Regions from separate parts of the Homo sapiens genome. Here region 1 is linked to region 2. Evidence: fine-mapped expression QTL. Tissue or cell type: skeletal muscle. Region 2 holds a variant in brackets; the other region holds the start of a gene. All regions are shown on one strand. Distances are between the middles of the regions.

Evidence for each region. PIP is the estimated chance that this variant, and not a neighbour inherited with it, causes the effect.
Region 1: BAIAP2 starts here. The variant in region 2 is fine-mapped to the expression of BAIAP2 in skeletal muscle (GTEx, PIP above 0.99).

The regions. Positions count from the first base shown.
Region 1 is chr17:81,028,117-81,038,194 of GRCh38, forward strand. It overlaps BAIAP2 (BAR/IMD domain containing adaptor protein 2), which reads left to right and starts at 7,035. Exons shown (of 14, transcript NM_001144888.2): 1 at 7,035-7,192. The coding sequence starts at 7,139. It overlaps BAIAP2-DT (BAIAP2 divergent transcript), which reads right to left and starts at 6,603. Exons shown (of 2, transcript NR_026857.1): 1 at 6,449-6,603; 2 at 1,017-5,282. RefSeq lists enhancers at 2,400-3,008, 3,009-3,616, 6,852-7,847, 8,898-9,450 and a silencer at 6,671-6,980.
Region 2 is chr17:81,054,248-81,062,247 of GRCh38, forward strand. It overlaps BAIAP2 (BAR/IMD domain containing adaptor protein 2), which reads left to right. Exons shown (of 14, transcript NM_001144888.2): 3 at 3,634-3,720. Among named protein-coding and RNA genes, the nearest start is that of BAIAP2, 23 kb to the left of the region's middle. RefSeq lists enhancers at 1,852-2,743, 2,744-3,633, 3,634-4,525. The variant C/G (reference allele first, on the strand shown) is at 3,287.

The DNA.
Region 1 (10,078 bases), 25 kb before region 2:
CTGGATTATATAAGGGGGCTTGTTGCTGGGGAACCTCTCCCCGCCCACCCCCGCCAGGGCAGGCTCTGGAGGGAGGCCACATGTCGTCTGTCCCCACCACCCTCAGAAGGAAGCCCCTCTGGCCTTTCTGGCCTGGTCTGTAGGGAAGCTCTGTCTGTAGGCCGCCTCACTTTGAGGGCTGAGGCTGGACCACGGCAACACAGGGTCAGGAAGGGCCCGAGAGGCCATGCCCACACTCCTCTGCCCATGTGTTGCTCAGAGCAGGCAGGGTCTCCCTGCCTTAGAGACAGTGGCCTCATCCTGTCCTCCAGAACTTCCTCCCCATCACGGGCCACGTACTCTCTGCGAGAGGAGAGAGGGGACATCAGATGCCCGGATGGGCAGCAATGCATCTCCCTGGCTATGGCCAGAAGTCTGGCCAACACTATGGCTGCAGGACAGCCATGAGCCACGCTGGGTTGTGGGCAGCAAACCCAAGGCACCATCTGCCAAGGAGGCCAGGTGAGAACCACGTCTGGGGTGGCAGAAGGGCTGAGCCGTCAGCAGGACCCTCGCGCCTCACAGCCCCAGCTCCACTGCGGGCAGTCCAGCCGCAGCCACAGACGGGGGAGGGGGCGAGGTGGGGGGCGGGCCCACGTGCCTGTCCTCGGGATAAGGGGCCACTCCACAGGGTGCTGGCCCCCTGGGGCTCTCTGTGATCAGCAGCAGCAGACCACAGGGGCAACAGCTCCATCCACTGACCCCAAGGTGGACAGAGTGGGGACCTGGGGGCCAGGACGAGATTCCAGGGTGAGGCACAGGTGACGCCTTCGGACTCCTGCAGGTAAAACTGGAGGCCTGTGCAAGATCACTGCCCATTCCCATGACAACCTTAACTCTAGCACATTTTTCATTCATGCAATTGTTACAAAGATACCGCCACCCCCCCATCCCCCCAGCCCAGTTTTCCCTTTGGTGACATCTTGCATCAGTACATGTGTTTATGATGATCAATGAATCAATGCTGCTACATTATTATTAACTAAAGCCCATACTTTATTCATATTTCCTCAGTTTCCCTCCAATGTCTTCTTTCTCTCCCAGGACCCCACCCAGGATCCCACGTGACATTTAGGGATCAGCTGTCTCCAGGTTCCTCTAGGCTGTGACAGTTTCTCAGACTTTGCTTGGTTGTTTTTTGGTTTTTGGTTTTTTTTATTTTGAGACAGAGTCTCATTCTGTCACCCAGGCCAGAATGCAGTGGCATCATCTCAGCTCACTGCAACCCCCGCCTCCTGGGTTCAAGCAATTCTCCTGCCTCAGCCTCCCGAGTAGCTGGGACTACAGGCGCCTGCCACCACGCCCGGCTAATTTTTGTATTTTTAGAGATGAGATTTCACCATGTTGGCTAGGCTGGTCTCAAACTCCTGACCTTGTGATCTGCCCGCCTCAGCCTTCCAAAGTGCTGGGATTAAGGTGTGAGCCACCGCGCCCAGCCCACTTTCCTTGGTTTTGATGACTTGGGAAGTTTTCAGGAGGGCTGGTCGGTTTTTCTGTAGAGTGTCCCCCTGTTGGGATTTGCCTAATGTTTCTTTTCTTTTCTTTTCGAGACAGGGTCTTGGTTTGTCGCCAAGGCTGGAGTGCAGTGGTGTGATCACAGCTCACTGCAGCCTTGACCTCCTGGGCTCCAGTGATCCTCCCACCTCAGCCTCTAGTGGCTAGGACCACAGGCATGTGCCATCACGCCTGGCTAATTAAAAAAAAAATTTTTTTTGTAGAGATGGGGTCTCACCATGTTGCCCAGACTGCTCTTGAACAATCTTCCCACCTCGGCCTCCCAAAATGCTGCGATTACAGGTGTAAGCCACTGCGCCCGGTCTGCCAGTGTTTTTCTAATACTAAGACAAGGGTTATGGGTCTGGGAGGAAGAGCCCAGTGGTGAAGCGCCCTGTCACATCTGCCCGTGTGACCTCTCGGTGATGGTGCCAGCCTTGACCTCTGGGCTGAGACAGTGGGTCGGGCTCTCCACTGTGGAGACGCCTTGCCTACCTCCCACTCTGTGCTCTCTGGAAGGAAGTCACCATGTGCAGCCCACACAGAAGGGGCACGAGCTGGGGCCCCCTCCCTGTGCCCCTTACTTTTATTTATTTTGAGACGAAGTTTCGCTTGTCGCCCAGGCTGGAGTGCAATGGCACAATCTCGGCTCACTGCAACCTCTACTTCCTGGGTTCAAGCGATCCTCCTACCTCAGCCTCCTGAGTAGCTGGGATTACAGGTGCCCACCACCATGCCTGGCTAATTTTTTGTATTTTCAGCAGAGATGCGGTTTCACCATGTTGGCCAGGCTGGTTTTGAACTCCTGACCCCAGTTGATCTGCCCGCCTCAGCCTCCCAAAGTGTTGTGATTACAGGCGTGAGCCACTGTGCCCGGCCGGGCCCCTTCCTTTTAAATGTCAGCCTCTGGAGTGACCATCTGTGTTGGCTGGGAGCTCTTCGGAATGTCCCATCCAGTTGCTGAGGCTAATGATCACCTCTCAGGTGCGCTGGTCCCATTCTCTGCGCTGTTTATGTCACTTTATGCCTGGACTCCTCCCAACAATGTTCTGTCCTCCACTTAGAGGGTGCTCAGAGAGGCTGTGACACCTGCCCCCAGCAACCAGCCAGTCATCTAGCCCAGTGGCCCCCGGGCCCGCCTATGCCAAATGATGCCCCCTCGGTGCCGCCCACCCCTAAATGCACACCATGCCTGCAGACGTCAGCACTCGCCCTGTCCCACTTGCCCTGGTGGGAAACAGCCTGCAGTGAAAACGTCGCTCTGCCTTTTATGCTGGACAAAGCCGAAGTGTGCTGGAGGTGGCTGAGCCAGGCTTCCCGCGGCAAGGAGCGGGACTCCTGACCCCACAGCCCTGGCTCCCACCCTCGATGTGCTCCTGCCTTTGCCTTCTTGCTGGTAACGCTGCCATTGGTGCTGGTAACGCTGCCATTGGTGAAGAACACGGGAGCCCATCCAGCCCATCCAGGAAGCAAAGAAACGGTGCTCCAGACACCATGCGGATAGCTTCACCCGCCGACCCCGGCCAGGCCCAGCTGCTCCCACAGCACCTGGCATGGAGGGGGAAGTGAGCAAGGGCAGGCGGGGAGAGAAGAGGCTCGCCCTCCTGGCTCTGCCCCAGACACCCGTCCGATAGCACTCCAGTGCCTTCCGGTCTCTCCCGCTCTGGAACTTTCTGGTTACTGATTACAAGTGCTTTAATCCAGGAATGAAAAGGAAGAGGAGTTCTGATTGGGTGGACCCTTCTCTTGGAGAGAAGGCAAAGCTGCCAGGCAGAAGGTGGGAGGGGGAGGAAGAGGAGAGAGGAAGCTCCCTTGACAGGCATAAAACGTCCCTGTGATTGCGGACAAGTGGCTACTCTCAGGCCACATTCAGCCGAGGCTGGGTGAGGCTGGTCGGGAAGAGGGAGACGGAGGTGGAAGCGGGTTCAAGTTTTGACGGGTGGTCACCTCAGAAAGGGCTCCTTCTGTTTAGCAAAACTCCCCAATCCTTCGCCTGGCTTGCCAGGAGAACAGCTTGCTTGAAAAGCAAAGGCTGTCATCCTGTAATTAAATCTGAGACCCCCCCCCATGTGACGTTGAGATGAAGCCACTTACATAACGCGACTAAAAATAAGCTGATGAAGGCTGCACACTTACACTCTCTGCCTCCAGCCCTCCTCTCCCCAGCGGCCCATCGTGCTGGCTGACCCAGGGTCCGCGTCACCGGCTGTGGCGTCGGGTTCCTGTCTGAAGTCACTCTTGCCTCCGGCCCCGCTCGGCGCCCTGTGTGCATGAGGGCCCATCGCTGGTGCCCGGGTTGCAGACCCCTGGCTCAGAGCTGGGGTGCTGAGGATCCCCCAGCCCGCCCAGGCGAGGGTTGACGCTTATGAGAGGAGACCTGCTGGGTACCAGCTCCATCTGCCTCCTTCTCAGTGACTCCTGACGAGCTGCTCATTTACACACACCTGCTCCCACCCCCACCCCACAGTCTGGATTGCGAAACCTACCGCACCCCACCCCCAGTGCAGGAAGAAGGTGACCCTGGTCTGGGGTGGGGACAGAGAGTCTGGGAGGGGGTGGTGGCTGGCAGTCTCGGTGGCTGGCGACGCCTCTTCCGCTCTTCCTTCCTGGGAGGAGGCGGGCAAGGCGAAGCCTCTCCGCTCAGTCGATGGTTTCCTTCAGGACGTCTCATAGAGGTGTGGGTGAGATCCCAGGTCTGGGCCGCAATTTCTAGCCACGCTGCCCAACCTTCAGGCAAGCAGTCAGGTTCCACAGCTACCCCACCACACTCTCAGAGTCGAGGGGAACAAGAAGAGGGAGTGGTCTGTAAATGCGTCGGGACAAGAGTGCCCTCCTAACTCCACCTGGAGCTGGCGTCAGGGCGATCTCTGGATGCCCAGCCCATAAGCCTGGCCTGTCTCTTCCTGGGACCCTTGGTACTCAGCACCCCCAGCCCCCAAGCCCCCTAATACCCTTTAGAAAGGCTTCCCCATCAGTGTGAAAGACCTCACAGGACGCTGGTGAAGGCGAGCACAGAGTGCCTGGGGAACATCCTTGGTGGAGAACTTCCTGGAGGCCACTGGTGCAGGGCAGATGCCAGGCGGGCACCGAGTTTCTTGCCCTTGTTCTGCATTCCTAGGTATGAGGACCTCACCACGTCCTGCTCTGCGCCTGTCATCGGCCGCGGTGTGTCTCCTCAGGTGCCGAGCTGGTCACTTCCATGTACAGCATGGATAACCGTCTTCTCAGGGAAGGCCTCCAGCCCGCATTCAGCCACCTGCCCAGCCGCCGGGCGGAGGGAGCAGGCTCAGGCACCGAGACTGCTGAGCCACTGGCCACCCGGGAAGCAGGCTGCGTTCTGAGTCGGTCACCGAATATGTCCCCCCTTGGACGGGAGTAGCGCAACGATGTGCAGGCCAGCTCAGGAAGTAACGCTGGGAGCTTCTAGAAGGTGGAGCGGGATCCAGGACCGTGGGAGCTTTTCCGGAGAAGCCTACCTCTCCTGTGTTGCAGCTGATGGGAGCAGCAGGGCCTGGAGAAGAACTGTCCCCAGGCTGACTCCCCTCTTGGAGTGAGGAGGCCTCCCGTGTTTGCCTGCCAGCCTCCATCTGTCATCTTGGTTCCAGCCATTCAACTTTCCTCCAGGCGAGCAGAGCTGCTCTACCCCCACCTGCTCCGTGTTGGCCCCAGACCCAACTCAGGCCAGTGGACGTCTGTCCTAGGGCTGCGTGTGAGATCGGTGGGTGCAGGGAACACAGCAGGAAGCTGGCCTAGAAGAAGGGGGTCAGGGTCAGTGGAGATGCTCCTACCTTCAGGTAAATGCCCTCATTTGTTAGGGCCAGTTTGAGCGAGCTTTCTGTCATTTACCACCAAAAGAATCCTAGAAAATAAATACACAGGGATCTACCCCCAAACACTGGAGACAATAAAGAAAAAGGAAGCAGCCAGGGCCAGTAGCTGGAAGGAAATTCAGCCGGAGGAGAGGAGGCGCGGGGCTGTGGTGGGAGGGAGGCAATGCTTCCTGAATCTTACTTCCCTGGTCTTTCCATCGGCCTGAGCCCGTGCCAGTCTGGGGATCTGCCGGCCAGCCAGCACAACTGCGTCTCCCCCAGGGGCCTGACTCGTTGAAGGAATGAATGAATGAATGATTTTGCAGGGATGGGAGGCTGGGAGACTGAGAGGTTTCATTAAACGGAAACGCTCAGATCTGGTGTTTCACAACGTAAAACAAATAATTCCTCTATGTTAGCCTAATTTATGTAAATATTTCTCCACGGGAATTGTACCGGGAGACCTGTGTGCCAACTCGGCCAGCTTCCCCGGCAGAATCTCCCCTTGGGAGGACCCTTAAGCAGGACCCTTCCTAAAAATTGGAGGCAGCTCTGACTCCTCCATTCCTCCTACAAGGTTCCCCCACCCCCTAGGGCTTTCCACCGCATGAGAGTCCTCCGGGCCCCTCGTTTCCTACTGCCCTCGACCCTTCCTTCCCGAGACCTCTCTCTCTCAGTAAACTGCCTCCAACGAGAATCTTCTGACGGCAGGAGGGTCCTCCCCGTCCCTAAGGGTCGCCCTGTCCCCAGGCCTTCCAGCAGGACACTCCCCTGTCCCCTCTCCAGATCCTCCTTCCCAGGGCCCTCCTCCAAGATCCTCTTCCCCAACCCTCCTCTCCCAGGGTCCTCCCCTCTCCAGAATCCCGGCCCCAAGCCCCCAAGCGCTGTCTGCCTGTCTGGGGTCCTCCCCAGAGTTCACCTTCTGCAGGATCCTCCCTCCAAGTCCTCTCCTCACGATGCTCCCCCGAAATCCTCCTTCTCCAAGTCGTCCCCCACTCCAGGGCCGAGCTCTCTCCAGGGTCCTCCTGCAGCACCCCCTCCCCCAGGGTTCTCCTCTCTGCCCCGAGGGGCCGGCCGGGGGGTCGCCGCCCGCCCGGCGGGCTTACCTGCGAAGCGGCGGGGTCGGGGCCTCTCCCACCTGTAAGCCCGGCCCGCGGCGTCCTGCGTCCGAGCCGCTCCCCGCCCCGCAGCGCCAGGCCGCGACCCGGCGGGCCGCCCGCCCCGAAGTGCCACTTCGCGAAGTGCCGCCTCCACGCGCGCTGCCGCCGGCGCCCCCCGCTCTCCTCCCCGCACCTTCTGCTCCTTCTTCCTGCGCCACCCCGCCCCCGCCTCCCCGCCCCCAGCCCGGCTGTTGCCCGGGCCCCCTCAGGCTGCTCCCAGGGCCCCAGCCCGCGCCGCGCCTCCCCTCTCCTCCCCCAGGATCGACGCCGCCGCAGACCAATCGCTGCCTGGAGTCGGCCACTAGGCCCCACCTCCGATCCCGCCCCCCTCCCCCTTCTCCGGAACCCACCAATGGAAAGGGCGGTGCGGGGGCGGGGCCTGGCGGTTGCCTAGCAGCGGCAGCGCCGGGCGGGGGCGGGTGGTCGGGGGCGGTGATGCGGGCGCAACGGGGGCGGGACGCAGGGGCGGGGACTGCCGCGGGGCGGGGCCTGAGGCGGCTATAAAGGTGGCCGCCGCCGGACGCCGGGCTCTGTGGTTCGGGTCCGCTTTCGTCTCCGTCCTGCTGCCGTTACCGCCGCTGCTGCCGCCGCTTGCGTCCCCCGCTCCGGTCTGTGGTGCAGCCGGGACCCAGGACCATGTCTCTGTCTCGCTCAGAGGAGATGCACCGGCTCACGGAAAATGTCTATAAGGTGAGCGCCCCCCGGCGCCGAGCTGAGCCCGCTCCGTGTGCGCCTGGGTCGCGCGCCGCCCGCGCGCCCGAGCCCGACCAGGGCGGCCCCGGGGCCGCGCGCCGGGCCAGGAGGCTGGGACTTTGGGGGTCTTCCCGGCGCGGCCACCCGGGACCCGGGCTGCTGGGGTGGTGAGCCCGGCGCCGGCCGCTCACAGGTGGCCACCCCCGCCCGGGCCCCCCCATCCCATGCGCGCCGCGGCCCGGTCAGTCCCCAGCCCCAGGCCCGGGGAGCACTCCCCGCTCCGACGGCCCTGCTCGGCCCCCGCGCGCTCGCCTTGGCGTCGGCGGGAACGGAGCCGCGCGCCGGGCCCCGGAAGCCCTCGGACCGGTCGGGGTCGTAGCACACCCGGGCAGGGCCGGGGCGGCGGGGGCGGCGGGCCCAGGGGTTGCGGCGGCCAGGACGGCATGGGGGCTGTCTGAAGGCCGCGGTCGGCGCGGTGGCACCGTGGGGCTCCTCCAGGCGCGGTTGCGCGAGCCTCGGGCACTTCATTCTCAACAGGCTTTCCCTTCCCACAACTCCTGCCCGGCGCCCATGCTGGGGCCTAAGGTGGGAGGTCGGAGCGCGGGCAGGCTGGATGGGTGGACGGATAATCTATCATCTTATGTAACCGCGGAGAGAGAAGACTAATTGTGTAGGAGGCTGACGTGCCTGCCTTTGCTTCAGATGTGTTAAGAGTGGCATCCACGTTCTCGTCTGCGAAATGACAGGTTCACATCCAAGGGCCGCAGAGCACCGCTGGAAGCCTCCCCTGCCGCCCCCTCCCCAGTCGTTTTTGTGGCTGGGATACCGACAAACAGGCCCTTGGTTTTCTCTTTCTTCAGCATCCGTTCTCGGTCCAGACCCCCACGCCTGAGCCCGGCAGCTGCCGGGGAGCATTTTCTCAGAGGAGAAACCCCTGCTCTGGGTGTCCCTGGGTCCTGGGCGATCTCTTACAGATGTGCTTTGTTTCAAAACTGTCTGCAGGTTCAGTGACAGGCTGGGCGATGAGTGGAGTGGGTATTTACCCGGCAGTCGCTGGTTCATGTTTCCTAACCGGCTTGCACCCTGCCCGGCAGAGTAACTGTTTCTGATTGTGGTAGGCGGCCAAGGCGTGCCTGGCCAGGGGCCTGGGAAGCCCTCTTAGCTCTCAGGCTTGGGAGAGCCAGATGGAGGCTTCAGGGGTGGCCCCTCTGGTTCCAGCTGGAGTGCAGGGGGCCGATTGCACTTGAATACAGCTTTCAATAAAGCTTGTGAAGTTGGGGCCGCGTCAGTCTGGAAGGTTTCTGAAGGCGGGTGTGCGGTCGACTAGATGAGTCCTAAAGCCACGTCGGAGCCACTGGGAAACAGGATTCAGGGTGACCTGAGGAGTCGGCTTGGGAAAGGCACAGGCCCTGGGGTTGTTAGGTTTGGTTTCACAGAGTCTGTGGCATACGGTTCTGGCCTTGTTGCTCTGTGGAAGCACATGTTGTCAAGGGAGGGAGGTTTATTAAATTATTAGTCATTAGCTCCATTACGACTTGTTTGTGATTGCAGAGGGTGGAAGAGAAGTACCAGCGGAACCTTTTTCCTATTTTTTCTCCTTCTGCGCTGAAACCAGAAAGCAGGAACTTTCGTGGTGAGAGTTGGCAGGGGGTGAGTACATGGAGTGGTTTTGCTCTGGGGGACCGACCCCGTGATCGTCCTTAATAAAACTCTCCTAACCGGGCAGTAGGCCTTCACCTAGGTGAAGCTGTAATTTATCTGCAGGTCTAAGTGAAATCTGCTGGCAGGAAAACTCTTAGGACTGAGTGTTTGGGGACTTTGAGCCCCTGTGGACGCAGACCAGCTGGTCTGGAGCACGTGAAACACACAGGTTCTGCGTTTTGTCTTCCACGGGTGGGTTAATTGGTGATTTTCCCAAGTGAAGATGTGGCGGTTGATGATTTGATTTAGCACGGCAGGACGCGGTGGGCCGCAGGTGTCTGAAGGGTCGATCCACTCTGGAAAGGCTTTGCCCTGGTGACAGGCTTGCGCTGCTGCTGCTGCACACAGGCGGGGTTGGTTTTGTAGGTAGGTGGCTCCTGCTGCCACTCCGGGAGCCTGACTGCTGAGTCTTTGAGACCTTTTTGTGCTTTGTCACTGGGGAGCTCAAGGTGCCTTGGTAGTGCCGGTACTGGTTGGGCAGCTTTTGGCAATGTCAGCCAGGCAGAAACTCAGCCCACATGGAGACATAGTCAGGAGACCGCTGAGGCCACCGGTGTGCACTCCTGGGCCGGTCCAGCCGGTCCAGGCAGTGCTGAGCTCTGTCCTCTCCTGGGACGGTGCTGCCTCTGGCATCCCTTCCCGGGGCCGCTCCTGTGCCTGGGTTGGCGGCTTGCAGAGCCCTGGCAGTGCCTCTTGGAACGGCTGTGCTGTGGCCTGCTTAGTGTCACCCGCGATGCGGCTCAGCTGTTTGGTTTGGTTTGGACATTGCATCGCCTTAACTGCAGTTCTGAGTGGTGTTTGCCTTGGCAAAGGAGGACGCTTGTCCTTGGCCTTGGTGATTAAAAATGCGAGAATAAAAAGTGCAGTTTTGATTTTCTTCCCCGTAAGAATCCGTAACGCAGACTTTGACCTCTTTTCTGGTGGCTCCATTCCCTTGGGAGCTGTGTCCTCGGGGAATTTCATGGAAGATGAAGGGGAGGGGAGTGGAACGGCTTCCCGGTGTTTGCCGAGAACATAATCTCAGACCTTCTGGGGGCACTGCGTGGGCTGGGCCCTGCAGGTGTTGGGAGGGCAAGGCGCGGAAGACCCCTTCCTCCACAGGAGCCCGGGCCCAGCGCTTGCTCAGGTTGCCCTGGGTAGTGGCCCAGATGGAGGGATGGAGTGCTGGAATCTGCCTCCCCC
Region 2 (8,000 bases):
GTGGGAGCTGCCTCCTGAGCTGGTAGAACTGTGCCCTGGCCCCAAGGGTGGGAGCTGCCTCCTGAGCTGGTAGAACTGTGCCCGGGCCCCGTGGGGTGGGAGCTGCCTCCTGAGCTGGCAGATGGACTTGGGCACAGCCTGTGGGGCCTGGTCAGGAGCGAAAGGAGGTCTTCTGTTCCAGCAACAAAGCTGGACAGCGGCTCTGAGTGAAGGTGTAGCCCATGCATTCTGGACTGGGTCTGCTGTCACTGTGGCAGCACGCCCCTGCCTGTGCGGGCTGCTCTTGTCCTGTGGCATCTAGAGACGGGAGGGGTGCGGATGTCAGTCCCTCAGGATCATGTAGAAACTGTGGGATCAGGGCTGGGATGAAGCTGTTGGTAACTGCAGCAGCTTCGGGTTTGAGAAATGAGCGAACGCCCTGCAGCTCCTTCTCACAAAGAGCCGGGACAGAGGGTGTGGGGGACTGGTGGCTGCAGGGACATTCCATTCTTCCCACTGTCTCCCTGAGACGCTTCCCATCGCCCCCACCCCACCCAGGCACTCCACTGCGGGGCCTTGGGTGCACCTGGGTCTTTCCGTCCTGGTGGGGAGTGGCTTCCTTGTCGCCAGATGCCCTTCTCACCTGCCCTGTTGGCCCCGCAGGTGCCCTTGGCTGAGTCCTGCCATGGATGGGGACTTGCTATTCTTGGACAGTGACCCCCGGTCTCCCTGTACCCTCTACCGTGTCTGTCCCTGTAACTGCAGCATCTTCATGGGCAGAGTCCACATCCCCAGCAGGGAGGAGATCGTGTGTTTTCCGGGACACGTGCTGCGTCTCTGCCGGCGCCCCCGGCTCCTCCACCGCTTCCTGGTGTTGCGGCACCCATGGGTTGGGTGGAGTTGGTTGTCCAGTTTTGGTGCCAGGTTAGAGGTGTCAAGGACGGGGCAGGAGTTGGTCAGCCCTCGTTCCTTTTTTACCACCTTTACTCCGTTGTCACCTGGGGAGAAAGCACTCCAACCGAGCACCTGGCAGAAGGCCTGTCCCTGGCACTGCCCTCCTTCTCAGCTCCCCAGGTGGACCAGTTGTGCCCGCCTGCCACATCTAGTTGGGGGTGGCCTTCATGTTTCCTTGTGGGCATGAATGGGACAGGGAGCTCCCTTGGGCCACCTCCTGTTTGCACCCGGCACCCTGCAGGGGCCCCCATGGCTGCCCCAGCAGCAGCCTTGTTTCTCTCCACCCTGCCCCTCCTCTACATCCCTGGGCCCGGGGTTGCACCCGAGGGACCTGCTCATCAAAATTGTCTTAAAGAGCTGTCCTTCCTCCAGCGAAAGTCTGCAGGGTGTTTTGTTTTTTTTTGAGACGGAGTCTCACTCTGTTGCCCAGGCCAGACTGCAGTGGCGCTATCTTGGCTCCCTGCAAACTCTGCCTCCCGGGTTCACGCCATTCTCCTGCCTCAGCCTCCCGAGTAGCTGGGACCACAGGTGCCTGCCACCACGCCCGGCTAATTTTTTGTATTTTTAGTAGAGACGGGGTTTCACTGTGTTAGCCAGGATGGTCTCGATCTCCTGACCTCGTGATCCGCCCGCCTCAGCCTCCCAAAGTGCCTAGGATTACAGGGGTGAGCCACCGCGCCCGGCCGTCTGCAGGGTTTTCATGACAGTGGAGATGCTTGGGCTGTGGCAGTGACCCCCGTCCCCCAGCCAGGAGCTTCTTGGATGAGGTAGTGGAGGTCGGCAGCAGAGCCTGTGGCAGCTCTGAGGGTCGGCGTGGCCTCCTGGTGGAAGTTGCACCTGGTTTGCTTCCCTATGGTGCACCCCAGTTGTTGGGCAGCTTCATGGGGGTCCCAGGGAGAGCTGCCTTTGCCTCTGGCCTGAAATGTTGACGCTGGAGAGAGGCTCCCGAATCAGAGTAGGAAGGCTGAGGCCCGGCTCGAGGTGGGTGCAGAGGGCTTCCAACTGTGGTGACCCCATGATCTCTAGGCACAGCACACGATGTCCAGATTCTCCGGGCCCAGCTAAGTTCCGTGCCCTGTGAATGAGACCAGTTGTTCATCTCTTCCTGGCTGGGTCTGAATCTTGGCCATTACAATGAGAATCCAGAGTCCAGATGATCCCACCCCTGGAGATGGGGGCTGGTCTTGCACATTGCAGACTGACGATGGCTTCCTTTTTCCAGAGCCACTCGTCTGTGGGACACTTGGTGACCTCATCTACGGTAGAGTCTTCCGTAGCCCTCACGTGGCTCTCCGAGGTGTGGGTTTCTTCCCCGTCGTCCGCACACGGGGAAGTGGTGTGGATGCCGCTTTCAGTGGGTTGCGGTGGGGGCCGGGGCCTGTGTTCCCCTCCTCTGGGTGAGCAGGCACTTCGGCCCTTTGATGCCACCAAGGCGTGGGTTCCGTTCGGGCCTTTCCGCTCCTGTTTGGTTCCTCATGAGGGTGGCGGGGCTGAGTGTGGAGACTTGGAGCTTTACTTCCTGCTCCTGCTTTTCTTGATGGCCTGGTGGGAATGAGCTCGGCCGTCCAGGCAGCACCGCCACCTTAGCCGCAGCCAGCCGCCCTGGAGTCTCACTTCTGCTGTTGCGTTTTTCTGCTGTTGCGTTTTTCTGCTGTTGCGTTTTTCTGCTGTTGCGTTTTTCTGCTGTTGCGTTTTTCTGCTGTTGCGTTTTTCTGCTGTTGCGTTTTTCTGCTGTTGCGTTTTTCTGCTGTTGCGTTTTTCTTTTGTTCGAGGCAGCACACCCGTCCCAGGCACAGGCCTTCATTCCTCTGTGGACGTGGTCTTGTGCCGCAGAACAAATTGTGCGCTTAATTGAAAAGTATATAAATAAAATCTGATAAAGTGCCCAGTTATAGGCCCCTAAGTGGGTTCTGTAGAAAACGGATTAGAAATTGTAATTACACTGCTCTCCGGGGCCCTGCCCCGCCCTTTCTGCGGCCTGGAGGTCAGGGCGGGGCTCCCTGTCAGGTGGAGGAGTTTGCCAGGCACTCCCTGGAGTCCCTGAGGAGGAAGCCCAGGCTCTTCCAGGAGCCTGCTCCACCCCTGTGGCTGTGGAGGAGTTCAGCAGGCCCGGAGCCCTTCACACCCACTTCTGATTAGATCAGACTCTGCCTCTGAGATGCTGGGAGGCCCCTCAGGCGGCGGCAATACCAAGTAATGCCTTTAGCCTCCTTTGATCAGCTGTGACGGGCGTCCTGGTCTGAGACTGTGAAGCAATTGGAAATAGTTCTCCCACTCCAGGCTCAGCTTGGGGATCTGTGGGGAAATGGCTTCCTACTGCCCAGCTCTGCAGTTTCCTTGCCCAGGGTTGGTT[C/G]TTTGTCTCATGAAATACAGTTAGTACAACACTCCCTCCCCCCGGCCCTGCCTGGTAGCACGTGATAGGGATCAGCTCTCTGCAATTTGACTTGAATAGCTCAGGACCTGAACTGGTACGTTGTGTTCTTACGAGTCAAGGGAGCTCTCATGATTGGGGTGAAACAAGAATATCAACAAGAGATGGGTTCTGTCCAACCCAGAAATCACAGCGAGTCGAGTATTCTCCCAGCTTGTCTGGGCAGGAGACAGGGTTGGGCCTGTGCGTGCCAAGACTGCCGTGTTTTTGCTGGGGGTCTTGTCTGTCCCTCGTGGAGGAAATAACTGCTCCCTTTTCTTCTCTCTCAGGTGTGACGTATGCAGCCAAAGGCTACTTTGACGCCCTGGTGAAGATGGGGGAGCTGGCCAGCGAGAGCCAGGGCTCCAAAGAACTCGGTGAGACCCCCCCCCCCCCCCCGCCTGGTAGTCGCCTGATGCCCTCAGGCAGCTCTGGGGCCCTGTCCTGTGTCCAGCCGCTTTTTGATTTGGGATCAGGTTTTGCCTGTCAAATAGGAAAATATTTTAATGACAGTCACCCTGGGAGCTGCCTTGTGGGGCACACCCTGCTGAAAGTGGGTGCTGGGTCCCCGTCCCCTGAGGCGTGCAGCCTGGGGTGAGGACAGCAGGCAAACCCACGTTTAAAAGTGTTCCCGGCAAATTGGAGCGGCTGACATGGGGGTCTGTGTGCTTGGATGATGGGATTAGATGGCGTGGGAATTCATTCCTGGTATTAAAATGAGTGAAAAAGGATGCAAGCCCACGTGTGGTGTGGCCCTGAGGAAGACACCCCAGCAGCGTGAGTGGGTGGATTTCCTGGAGGGCAGGTTATGTTATTGATGCTTTGTCTGTGTTTAGCAAATTTTCTGTGATCGCTCCTGTGACGTCTATGTCAAGGGACACAGGGTGAAACCTGGAAATTCAGGGCCCACGTGGTGGTGCTGCAGGCGTGGCTTAGACGGAGTCCATGCTTCCACAGTCCCCTCACCTAGCAGGGTGGTGCTGAGGTTTCCTCTGCCCGCCTGGGAGACCCCGGGCCGGCTGCCTGTGCTCACTTGCTGCTCCCAGAGCGAGCTGTGGCCGGCAGAGCGGCCCTTGACGCACAAGGAAGCCTGAGTCGCTGGAGAAACCACTTGGATTCCTCTTCCCTCTGGTCACGGAGGACAGGCTGCGCTCACTCTTGACCGTCTCCCCGTGGCCGCCAATCTGGGAGGTGGTCTGCAGGTCTGGAGACCCTCGGATGGGGAAGAGTCACTGTGACTGGCCCTGTTCCCTTCTTTCTACTTTTCTTCTCGGGGACTGAAAGCCCCCTTGACTGACAGAGGCCCTGGCTGAGTCGGCAGGCGGTGGGCTGGGGGGTCGTGGGTTGCTCTGTGTCACTTCCAGCTCCCAGAAGAGGCTCCGTCTCCCTAATGCTGAGGCTCTGGGGCTGGGACCCCAGGAACCCAGCTTTGCCTGTCCAGGCCCCGTTCTCTCCAGTTCACTCACGACGTCCTGCGCCGGGAGGCAGACCTGCCGGCCGCACTTCGCAGCCCCCTGCGGACCCTCATCGGAGCCCCCCCCCCACGCCCCCACAGGCTGCTGCCTTGGGCAGGCCCGCTGGCGTGTTTGCTGCAGGTCTGGTGATGCCCGGGCGGCTGGAGTTTCTCGAGGCACCGCTGTGCTGACAGACTGGGGAGGAGAGGAGGAGGCACTCTGGGCGGGGTCCCCGGGCCTCCGCAGACTCAGCCTGGAGGATGACGTGTGAGATGCATGGTGTTAGGGTGACGGAGGCTGAGACTCCAGTGCAACCAACAGCAGCCTGCCTTGGAGCTCCTGGGCCCTGACCGGGTCTTCAGGGTTTGGAGAAGGGCAGAAGCAGTGGGTGTCTGTGAAAGGGGCATTTTCTTTTTCATTAGAGACAGGGTCTTGCTCTGTCGCCCAGGCTGGAATGCAGAACTATCGTGGCTCACTGTGGCCTTGAACTCATGGGCTCAAGTGATCCTCCTGCCTCAGCCTCCCTAGTAGCTGGGACCACAGGCGTGCGCCACCACGCCCAGCTGATTTTTTATTTTTAATTTTTTGTAGAGAAAAGGTCTTACTGTGTTGCCCAGGCTGGTCTTGAGCTCCTGGGCTCAAGTGATCTTCCCACCTTAGCCTCCTAGACTGCTGGGATTATAGGCGTGAGCCACCACGCCTGGCTGAAAGAGGCATTGTCTTACCATAATTAACCAGGTGTTGAGGAGATGAGGTAGAGGACCAGGTGTCTTCGCCCCTTGGTCGCATGAGGGTCTGCCCGTGGGGAACTCCAGGCTCTTGTGGCCCACAGTGAGGGGTGGGTGGGTCCGAAATGGGTGGGATTCCAGAACTTCCTGTTGGCGGAGTCCCTGGTGGTTGACTGCAAGAAGGCGCTGAGCCCACATGGGCACAAGGAGGAGGAGGGAAGCTTCAGAAGAGAGGGAGACGTGAGGGCTCTTACTTGGATCAGGGAGCGTCTGTTTACCTGTGGCCTTTTGGAATCTCTCCCCGGGCTCCTCCTGGAGCGTGGAGCCCCGCTGTGTGCATCTGCAGAGGGCCAGCCACATGTCAGCCTTGCTCTGGGAGTCAGGTTTTCTTCCCGGTAACAGCTTGATTGACAGAATTCACATGCCATACAGTTACCCCATTAGAGTGTACAGTTCTGTGGCTTAGTGTATTTACAGTGTGCAACCATTGCCCCATCTAACTCCAAAGCATTTTTATCACCCCAAAGCGTTTTTAGCACCCCAAAAAGAAATCCCATACCCCTTAAGCAGTCCCTCCCTCATCCCCACGCTCCCAGCCCCTGGCAGCCACACCACTGTGTCTGTCTCTCCGGACTGGCCCATTCTAGACATTTCATATAAATGGAGTCATACGGTGTGTGACCTTCTGTGTCTGACCCTTTTCCCTGAGCACATGTTTACCGTCCCTCTGTGCTATAGCCCGTGTCAGGGCTTCATTCCTGTTTGTGGCTGAACGATGATCCATTGCACAGGCAGACCCATTTCATTTATCTGGGGTTGCTGTCACCTTCCGGCAGCTGTGAGCCTGTTTTCATCTCTCCTGGGCATGCACCGAAACTGGAATTGCCGGGTCAGATGGCTGGGAGTTGAGTTTTTATGAAAGCAACACATCCTTGTTTCAAACAAAGTCAGCCACTTCCCACCCTCCTAGTGTGGCCAAGTCCTACTGCACAGAGGCGGCTCCCTCGGCTGCGTGTCTAAGAGGGCAGGTTTATGCCATTCCTCCTCCTCCTCCTCTACCTCCAACAGGGCCGGGCGCGGTGGCTCACACCTGTAATCCTAGCACGTTGGGAGGCTGAGGCAGGTGGATTGCCTGAGGTCAGGAGTTCGAGACCAGCCTGGGCAACATGGTGAAACCCCCATCTCTACTAAAATACAAAAAATTAGCCGGGCGTGGTGGCATGCGCCTGTAATCCCAGCTACTAGGGAGGCTGAGACAGGAGAATCGCTTGAACCTGGGAGGCGGAGGTTGCAGTGAGCCGAGATGGTGCCATTGCGCTCCAGCCTGGGAGACAGAGCGAGACTCCGTCTCAAAAAAAAGTTTAGACATCATCGAAAGGATTCTTATTACGGAAGATGTGGACTTAGCCTTTTTATGCTGTCCCTTGCCCCACCCAGTATAATTATCACAGTATTTGTTTAAACTCATGTACGGTGTTATCTGATGATATAAATTCTTTTCATGGCTAAGGCAGACGGTGTATTATGATGACTGTTTGTACAACTTCATCGAGGTGTCTGAGTGTCCAGTGTGATGAGTTTTGACGTGTGTACACCTGTGAAGCTGTGGCCACAATCACAATGGTGAACTTGTCCGTCTCTCGAAGAGTCCTCGGGCCCTCCCTCCCCATCTCCAGGCAACCACTGATCCGCTTTCTGTCACTGTAATTTAGCATGCATTTGCTGGAGTTTTACATACATGGAACCATACGGCGTGTCTTCTTTTTTTGTCCAGCTTCCTCGGGTGTGCGTGGTTATTCTGAGCTGCCTTCCTGCTGCGCGCGTCAGGAATTTGTTGCATTTCGTCGCTTGCAGGGTCCTGTTGTGCGGAGGTGCCACAGTTTGGCCGTACCCTCATCTGTTGATGGACACCTGGGTGTTTTTAGCTTGGGGCGTTCCTAAATTTTCATTTCCTTAATTAACTGATGTTGTGGAGCATCTTTTTGTGTTTTTGTTCACCACTGATCTCTCTTGGTGAAGTGTGTGTTCGAATCTTCCCCCTTTGTTTCACTTGGCTTTTGTCTTCTTAAGTTACGAGAGTCCTCTGTATACTCTAGATGGAAGTCCCTTGCCAGGAATCTATTTTGCACATATTTGCTTTCAGTCTGGTGGGCCTTTCCTTTTTGTAATAGTGGTTTTAGTTTTTTTTGAGACCGAATCTCACTCTGTCACCCAGGCTGGAGTGCAGGGGTGCAATCTCGGCTCACTGCCACCTTCACCTCCCAGGTTCATGCGAGTCTCCTGCCTCAGCCTCCCAAGTAGCTGGCATTATAGGCACCGGCCACCACACCCGCCTAATTTTTGTATTTGTATATTTTTAGTGGAGATGGGGTTTCACCATGTTGTCCAGGCTGCTCTCAAACTCCTGCTCTCAAGTGATCTGCCTGCCTCGGCCTCCCAGAGTGCTGAGATTACAGGCATGAGCCATCGCACCCA